2 linked regions of the Homo sapiens genome follow. The protein of the gene in region 1 purifies or fractionates together with the protein of each later gene. This does not show direct contact. Each region holds a gene or a part of one and is shown on either strand. Other genes may lie near its edges.

Evidence for each region.
Region 2: the proteins of ELK3 (region 1) and MYH14 purify together in Homo sapiens (affinity purification with mass spectrometry; one large-scale study listed by BioGRID and IntAct). This does not show direct contact.

What each region holds. Positions count from the first base shown.
Region 1 is NC_000012.12:96,246,062-96,249,874, forward strand, and holds part of ELK3 (ETS domain-containing protein Elk-3), read left to right. Parts: intron 1-878; coding exon 879-1,673; intron 1,674-3,813. UniProt on the Homo sapiens protein: May be a negative regulator of transcription, but can activate transcription when coexpressed with Ras, Src or Mos. Forms a ternary complex with the serum response factor and the ETS and SRF motifs of the Fos serum response element.
Region 2 is NC_000019.10:50,276,483-50,280,295, forward strand, and holds part of MYH14 (myosin-14), read left to right. Parts: intron 1-274; coding exon 275-419; intron 420-1,600; coding exon 1,601-1,807; intron 1,808-3,554; coding exon 3,555-3,659; intron 3,660-3,748; coding exon 3,749-3,813. UniProt on the Homo sapiens protein: Cellular myosin that appears to play a role in cytokinesis, cell shape, and specialized functions such as secretion and capping.

The sequences.
Region 1 (3,813 bases):
ACGTTGTAGTGTTTGATGATGATAACTTGCATTTTATAATGCTTTCCAGCTTACAGAATGCTTTCTCATTATTATTTCATTGAATTCTTCTGACTCGCAGAGGTAGGTAAGACAATACTGTGTTATGGTTCAGGACATGCTGCCTCTACCACTTCACTTCCTAGCAGGTGGTCATGTGAGTTAGGGAAGTGCTCTAAGCTTATTTTCCAAATTTTTAAAATAGGAGTCACAACACCTTCCTTTTAGGATTGCTGTTCAGATTGTATGAGATAAGATATGAATAATCCCATCCACATAGTAAAGGCTTCATAAATGGCAGCTGTTACTATGTTATTACATAGAATAATCCTCACTCGGCCAAGGTTGGGGGATTGCTTGAGTCCAGGAGTTTGAGACCAGCCTGAGCAACCAAGTGAGATGCTGTCTCCACAAAAAATAAAAATGTAAAAATTAGCAGGGTGTGGTGGCATGTACCTGTAGTCCCAGCCACTCAGGAGGTGGAGGCAGGAGGATTGCTTGAGTCCAGGAGGTTGAGGCTGCAGTGAGCCATGTTCGTGCCACTGCACTCCAGCCTGTGCGACAGAGTGAGACCCTGTCTAAGAAATCATCATCATCATCATCATCTTCCTTACTTTACAGACGAGGAAACTCAAAGTGGCACTTAATTTGCCAAAGATCACAAAGATCTAGTAATGGCAGAACTGGAATGCACATCTAATTCTACTTCCAACTTCATTCCTCCTTCCACTTTTCCTTAGCCAAGAATGTAAATCAGGAACATTTTGGTGCTTCTGCCAGCGACATTTACCATTATCATGAGCTCTTACATGGTTTCTCGGGTGCACTCAGATTTTCAACGTCTACTTTTGTATTTGCAGAACATCATCAAGAAGGTGATCGGGCAGAAGTTTGTGTACAAGTTTGTCTCTTTCCCGGAGATCCTGAAGATGGATCCTCACGCGGTGGAGATCAGCCGGGAGAGCCTTCTGCTGCAGGACAGCGACTGCAAGGCGTCTCCGGAGGGCCGCGAGGCCCACAAACACGGCCTGGCCGCCCTCAGAAGCACGAGCCGCAACGAATACATCCACTCAGGCCTGTACTCGTCCTTCACCATTAATTCCCTGCAGAACCCACCAGACGCCTTCAAGGCCATCAAGACGGAGAAGCTGGAGGAGCCGCCCGAAGACAGCCCCCCCGTGGAAGAAGTCAGGACTGTGATCAGGTTTGTGACCAATAAAACCGACAAGCACGTCACCAGGCCGGTGGTGTCCCTGCCTTCCACGTCAGAGGCTGCGGCGGCGTCCGCCTTCCTGGCCTCGTCCGTCTCGGCCAAGATCTCCTCTTTAATGTTGCCAAACGCTGCCAGTATTTCATCCGCCTCACCCTTCTCATCTCGGTCCCCGTCCCTGTCCCCCAACTCACCCCTCCCTTCTGAACACAGAAGCCTCTTCCTGGAGGCCGCCTGCCATGACTCCGATTCCCTGGAGCCCTTGAACCTGTCATCGGGCTCCAAGACCAAGTCTCCATCTCTTCCCCCAAAGGCCAAAAAACCCAAAGGCTTGGAAATCTCAGCGCCCCCGCTGGTGCTCTCCGGCACCGACATCGGCTCCATCGCCCTCAACAGCCCAGCCCTCCCCTCGGGATCCCTCACCCCAGCCTTCTTCACCGCACAGGTAAGAGTCATTCCTGTCATCTAAGCCACAGCCAGCTTCAGTGGCTTAGCAAAAAAGGAAGAGCAACTAAAGAGACTTCCTTCTGTCCCTCAAAACGTTGTCCTATGACTCGTACCGAGGTCACTGTGTAAATGTGAAGGGAAGCTGCTTTTCCATCCTCAGACCAAGGGGTGCACATGAGACAGGGTTTGGTTTGTCGACTCTAGTGGGATGCTTGATTGGTTTCTTGCTTTTAGCGGCCTAAAGTGACCATAGGTGGAACACGCACACTGGCCGACAAAGCAGATCTCACCAGCGATTTCCAAGGGAAAGTTGAGCGGGCCAGTTTACATTTCGGGAGGCGCTTGGGCTTTATGAAATTTTTATGGCAGAATCTTCTCTGGGGGCGCTTAATAAGGAGCCACTTGTGTTCTGTTAACAAGAAAATAGATGTCAACTGATGCCGCCATCGCATGTCAGTGTGGAGCTGTGGTCATAGCGTAGGTAATAAGAAACAAAGGGGCCACCCCAAACAGCTGCTTCGCTGAAAGCAGCACTACTCTGAGAAAGCCCCAGTCCACAGCACTGGCGAGAGGACAGCAAACTTGCAGAGCCAAAAAAGCCTTCGTTGTTATTAGTCCCAAAGAGAAAGCAGCCTTTTCCTTTAAATCAGATATTCAGATGCTCTTTCTTGTCCAGCTGACAATTGCAGTGCAAAGGCGTAGTAGGTGCTGGGAAACCATATTTCTCCTTCCCCTTGAAAATTGGATGCAATTTTAGTGGCAGAGGTTAAAAGAGTATTCGTTTTAGGTTCACAGACCTGCATTCAGTTCCTGGCTACCCTGCTTCCTAGGAGTGGGACTGTGGGCGGTTGCTCTCTGGGCCAGGTTCCATGTGTGGAAAATGGGACCATGGACAGGCTTTGTGAGCTGGGGACACCTGGTAGCATTGTTAACCGTGGAGCTGCACCCGTCCCCTGCCTCTGTAATCTCATCGTAGTTGTCCCTGTTGTCATTAGCAGCAGCCGCGGCAGCATATGACGGGCTCCCCACGTGTGCCAGGCACTGCTCCAGATGCTTTACATGCATTGCCTGTATCCACACTTACAGCAGCCCTGTCACGTGGATACAGGTTGAGCATCCTGTTTCCAAAATGCTTGTGACCAGAAGCATTTCAGAGTTCAGATGTTTTCAGATTTTGGAATATTTGCATGATACTTGCCAGTTGAATATCCCACATCTGAAAATCTGAAATCCAAAATGTTGCAATGAGCATTTCCTTGGAGTGTCATGTCAGGACTCAGAAAGTTTCAGATTCTGGAGGATTTGGGATTTGGGAATTTTTGGATTTGGGATGCTGAGCCTGTGCTATTATTATCATCCTGTTTCCCAGCTGAGATAAATGAGGCACAGAGGTAAAGTAGTTCGTCCAGGGTCCCACAGCCAATAGGTGGTAGAGGTGGCTTTGGATCCAGTGTCTGCCTCCAGAATCCATGCTCTCAAATGAAATGCATTCCCGCTGCGAGAAGGCAGTGTCCCTGATCACGATGGCCGTCCATGGAGCACCTGAAAGCAGCTCTGGGCCACTGTCCTCTCCACGCTTTCTCTGGACTGGATTCTGCCCAGGATTTCATGACAGCTCAAGCCTGTGAGCTGGTGGTGACGCGCGCCACTGCGGAGGGGGAGGGCCAGGGGATCAGGATATAGGTCAGAGTGAGCACGTGTGCTCTTAAATCAGGCATCTTCCAGTTAAGCAAGGCTGTCCAGTGACCAAGGGCTGCTGAGCAAATGGCTCAGAAACAGCAGCTCCTGATGTAGCTCAGGGGAGTATCTTGAGAGGCAGGGCCAGGGTAGATGATCTGAGCATCTCCTCCCCTGGCCTCCTGTGTGTTTACAACTGTCAGGGTGAGAAAGGTCCGAAGCCAGGCCAGGGCTGACTCTGATTTAGGTGTCTGTGTTCCCTGGGAGCCTGGATCACCTTCTCAGAACAGAGTGAGGCAGATGCCAGCCCTGTCTCAGAGGAAGTCAGCTCAGCCAGCCCTGTGGATAATGTGGATGGAGTGGTGGCTCCCATCGGTGGGGCTGAGGGCGTGAGAGAAGGATCAAGGGTGGATGCCCAACAAATGGATGCAGAGGGCACGACCAGGAGCCAGAAGCCACCA
Region 2 (3,813 bases), on another chromosome or scaffold:
GTGATAAGTGAAGACCCCTAAACCAAGTCTATGGGAGATCCAGGAAGACTTTCCTGAGGAAGGGCCTTTTGGAAAAGGGTTTTGAAAGGTGAATAGGAGTTCACCCTTAAAGCCACACTCCTTCCACAGCATCACCACCCAGATCTCCTGAGGAGCATAACATGAGGCCCTCATATTTTAAGGAAACATGAAAAGGAGAAACAACCAGCTCCCCCAAAGCCCCTGCCTTCCTCTGCTCTGAAATTCCCATCCTCTCTCCTTTCCCCCAATAAAGGTCCAAGAGGGAACAGGAGGTGACGGAGCTGAAGAAGACTCTGGAGGAGGAGACTCGCATCCACGAGGCGGCAGTGCAGGAGCTGAGGCAGCGCCACGGCCAGGCCCTGGGGGAGCTGGCGGAGCAGCTGGAGCAGGCCCGGAGGGTGGGTTGGGGCAGGGGGACAGGGCAGGGGGGCCACGGGGAGGGCAGGGCAGGACGCGGGGTTGGAGGAGGTACCGCTGGCTGGTTCTAGGCTAGCTCATCTCCCTGGGCCCCTTTCCTCACGCATTCATGTGCATCTTTCATTCAGCAAGCATTAATGGGGTGTGGACTATGTTCCAGGAGCATTGCTGGGGAACCAGCCATGAACCCAACAACCAGCACTGCCTTCCCTTGTGGAGCTTTCCTTTTAGTGAGAGAGGCAGAGGGTAAACAATATAAACACTTTCAGTTTATATTGGGGTGATAAGTGCTATGGGGCCATAATGAACAGGAAAAAGGGATCAGAATTCTAAGGCGGGTGAGTTTTTAAGTAGAGAGGCTGTGGAGGTATTCTGCGAGAAGGTGACATCAGGGTAAAAAACTGAGGGAGTGGCCGGGCATGGTGGCTCTTGCCTGTAACTTTGGGAGGCTGAGGCAGGCAGATCACTTGAGGCCAGGAGTTCGAGACCAGCCTGGGCAACATGGTGAAACCCCATCTCTACTAAAAATACAAAAACTAGCTGGGCGTGGTGGCACACACGCCTATAGTCCCAGCTACTTGAGAGGCTGAGGCAGGAGAATCACTTGAACCCAAGAAGCAGAGGTTGAAGTGAGTCAAGATTGTACCATTCCACTCCAGCCTGGGTGACAGAGCAAGACTCTGTCTCAAAAAACAAACAAACAAACAAAAATGGGCCAGACGTGGTGGCTCATGGCTGTAATCCCAGCACTGTGGGAGGCTGAGGTGGGTGGATCACCTGAGGTCAGGAGTTCAAGACCAGCCTGGCCAACATGGCAAAATCCCATCTCTACTAAAAACACAAAAAATTAGCCGGGCGTGGTGGTGGGCGCCTGTAATCCTAGCTACTTGGGAGGCTGAGACAGGAGAATCACTTGAACCTGGGAGGCGGAGGTTGCAGTGAGCAGAGATCGTGCCTTTGCACTCCAGCTTGGGCAACAAGACTGAAGCACTGTCTCAAAAAAAAAAAAAAAATTGGGAGTGAGGGGTGAGCTATTTGTTCACTGGGAGAAGTGTGTTCCAGGCAGAGGGAACAGCCAGTGCAAAGGCCCTGAGATGGGAGTGTGCCTGGCCTGGTCCAGGAAAGGCCTCATAGATCTTTGCTCATCTCCTTCCCACACCAGGGCAAAGGTGCATGGGAGAAGACCCGGCTGGCCCTGGAGGCCGAGGTGTCCGAGCTGCGGGCAGAACTGAGCAGCCTGCAGACTGCACGTCAGGAGGGTGAGCAGCGGAGGCGCCGCCTGGAGTTACAGCTGCAGGAGGTGCAGGGCCGGGCTGGTGATGGGGAGAGGGCACGAGCGGAGGCTGCTGAGAAGCTGCAGCGAGCCCAGGTAAGTGGGGTGGGCAGGGCAGAGGTTTCTGCTGTGTGACCTTGGTGACATGCCTGCCCTCTCTGGGCTTCTATTTGGTCCATATCAAACCAATTGTCTCGTTTGGCTCTTCCAACATAATCATGTACAAGTCTGGGCACAGTGGCTCATGTCTGTAATTCTAGCACTTGGGAGGCCAAGGCAGGAGGATTGCTTGAGCCCAGGAGTTCGAGACCAGCCTGGGCAACATAGTGAGACCCCATCTTCAGAAAAAAAAAAATTTTAATTAGCCAGGTATGCTGGCATGTGCCTGTAGTCCCAGCTACTCAGGGGACTGAGGAAGGAGGATCCCTTGAGCCTGGGAGGTCGAGGCTGCAATGAGCTGTGATTGTGCCACTGCACTCTAGCCTGGGCAACAAAGTGAGATCCTGTCTCAAAATAATAATAATAATACCCAGTACTTTGGGAGGCCGAGGCGGGCAGATCACCTGAAGTCAGAAGTTCGAGACCGGCCTCACCAACATGGAGAAACCCTGTCTCTACTAAAAAAAAAAAAAAAAAAACACAAAATTAGCCGGGCGTGATGGCGCATGCCTGTAATCCCAGCTACTCGAGAGGCTGAGGCAGGAGAATCACTTGAACCCGGGAGGCAGAGGTTGTGATGAGCTGAGACCGCGCCATTGCGTTCCAGCCTGGGCAGCGAGAGTGAAACTCCATCTCCAATAATAATAATAATAATTCACTCATTTAAGATGTGCAATTCAATGGATTTTGGTATATTCACAGAGTGGTATGGCCATCACCATAATCTAATTTTGGACCATTTTCATTATCCCAAAAAGAAAATCCTATACCCTTTAGCTATCATCCCCCACTTCTCCCCCACCCCACCCAGGGAACCACTAATCTCCTTTCTGTCTTTACTGATCTCCCATTCTGGAGATCTTATATAAATGGAATCCTACTATATATGGGTGGCCTTTGTGGCTGCCTTCTTTTACTTAACATAACGGTTTCAAGATTCATCTGTGTTGCAGCTCGTAGCATAATTCCTTTTTTATTTTTTAATTTTTAAAACACCAGCTGGGTGCAGTGGCTCATGCCTGTAATCCCAGCACTTTGGCAGCGGAGGCGGGTGGGTCACCTGAGGTCAGGAGTTCAAGACCAGCTGCCTGACCAACATGGTGAAACTTCGTCTCTACTAAAAATACAAAATTAGCCGGGTGTGGTGGCGCATGCCTGTAATCCTAGCTACTTGGGAGGCTAAGGCAGGAGAATCACTTGCACCTGGGAGGCGGAGGTTGCAGTGAGCCGAGATTGCACCATTGCGCTCTAGCCTGGGCAACAAGAGTGAAACTCTGTCTCAAAAAAACCCCAAAAAACAACAGCACGCAATAGATCCATATACCTTTCTATTGCCGAATAATGCCCGTTGTATGGATATTCCACATTTGTTTATCCATTCGTTTATTGATGGACATTGGGGCTGTTCCCGCCTCTTGGCGATGGTGAGTAATGCCACTGAGAACATTCCGGTACGAGTTTCTGCATAGACCTATGCGTTCATTTCTTTTGGGTATGCACCTAGGAGCGGGATTGTTGGGTCATGTGGGAACCCTATGTTTAAGCATCTGTGGATCTGCCAGACTGTTTTCCACGGCAGCTGTAACATTTCACATTCCTGCCAGTGTGGTAGAGAGTTGAGGCAGATGGGGTCACTGGGTGGAAGCCACGATTGGAGGGCTTCATTCCCGTCCCTTCCCTGCAGGCTGAACTGGAGAATGTGTCTGGGGCGCTGAACGAGGCTGAGTCCAAAACCATCCGTCTTAGCAAGGAGCTGAGCAGCACAGAAGCCCAGCTGCACGATGCCCAGGTGACCCTGCCTGCCCTTCGGCTCCACCGTCACCCTCCCCTCCTTGTCCTCCCAGCCACACCTGACATTGCCGTCTCCTCCATCTACAGGAGCTGCTGCAGGAGGAGACCAGGGCGAAATTGGCCTTGGGGTCCCGGGTGCGAGCCATGGAGGC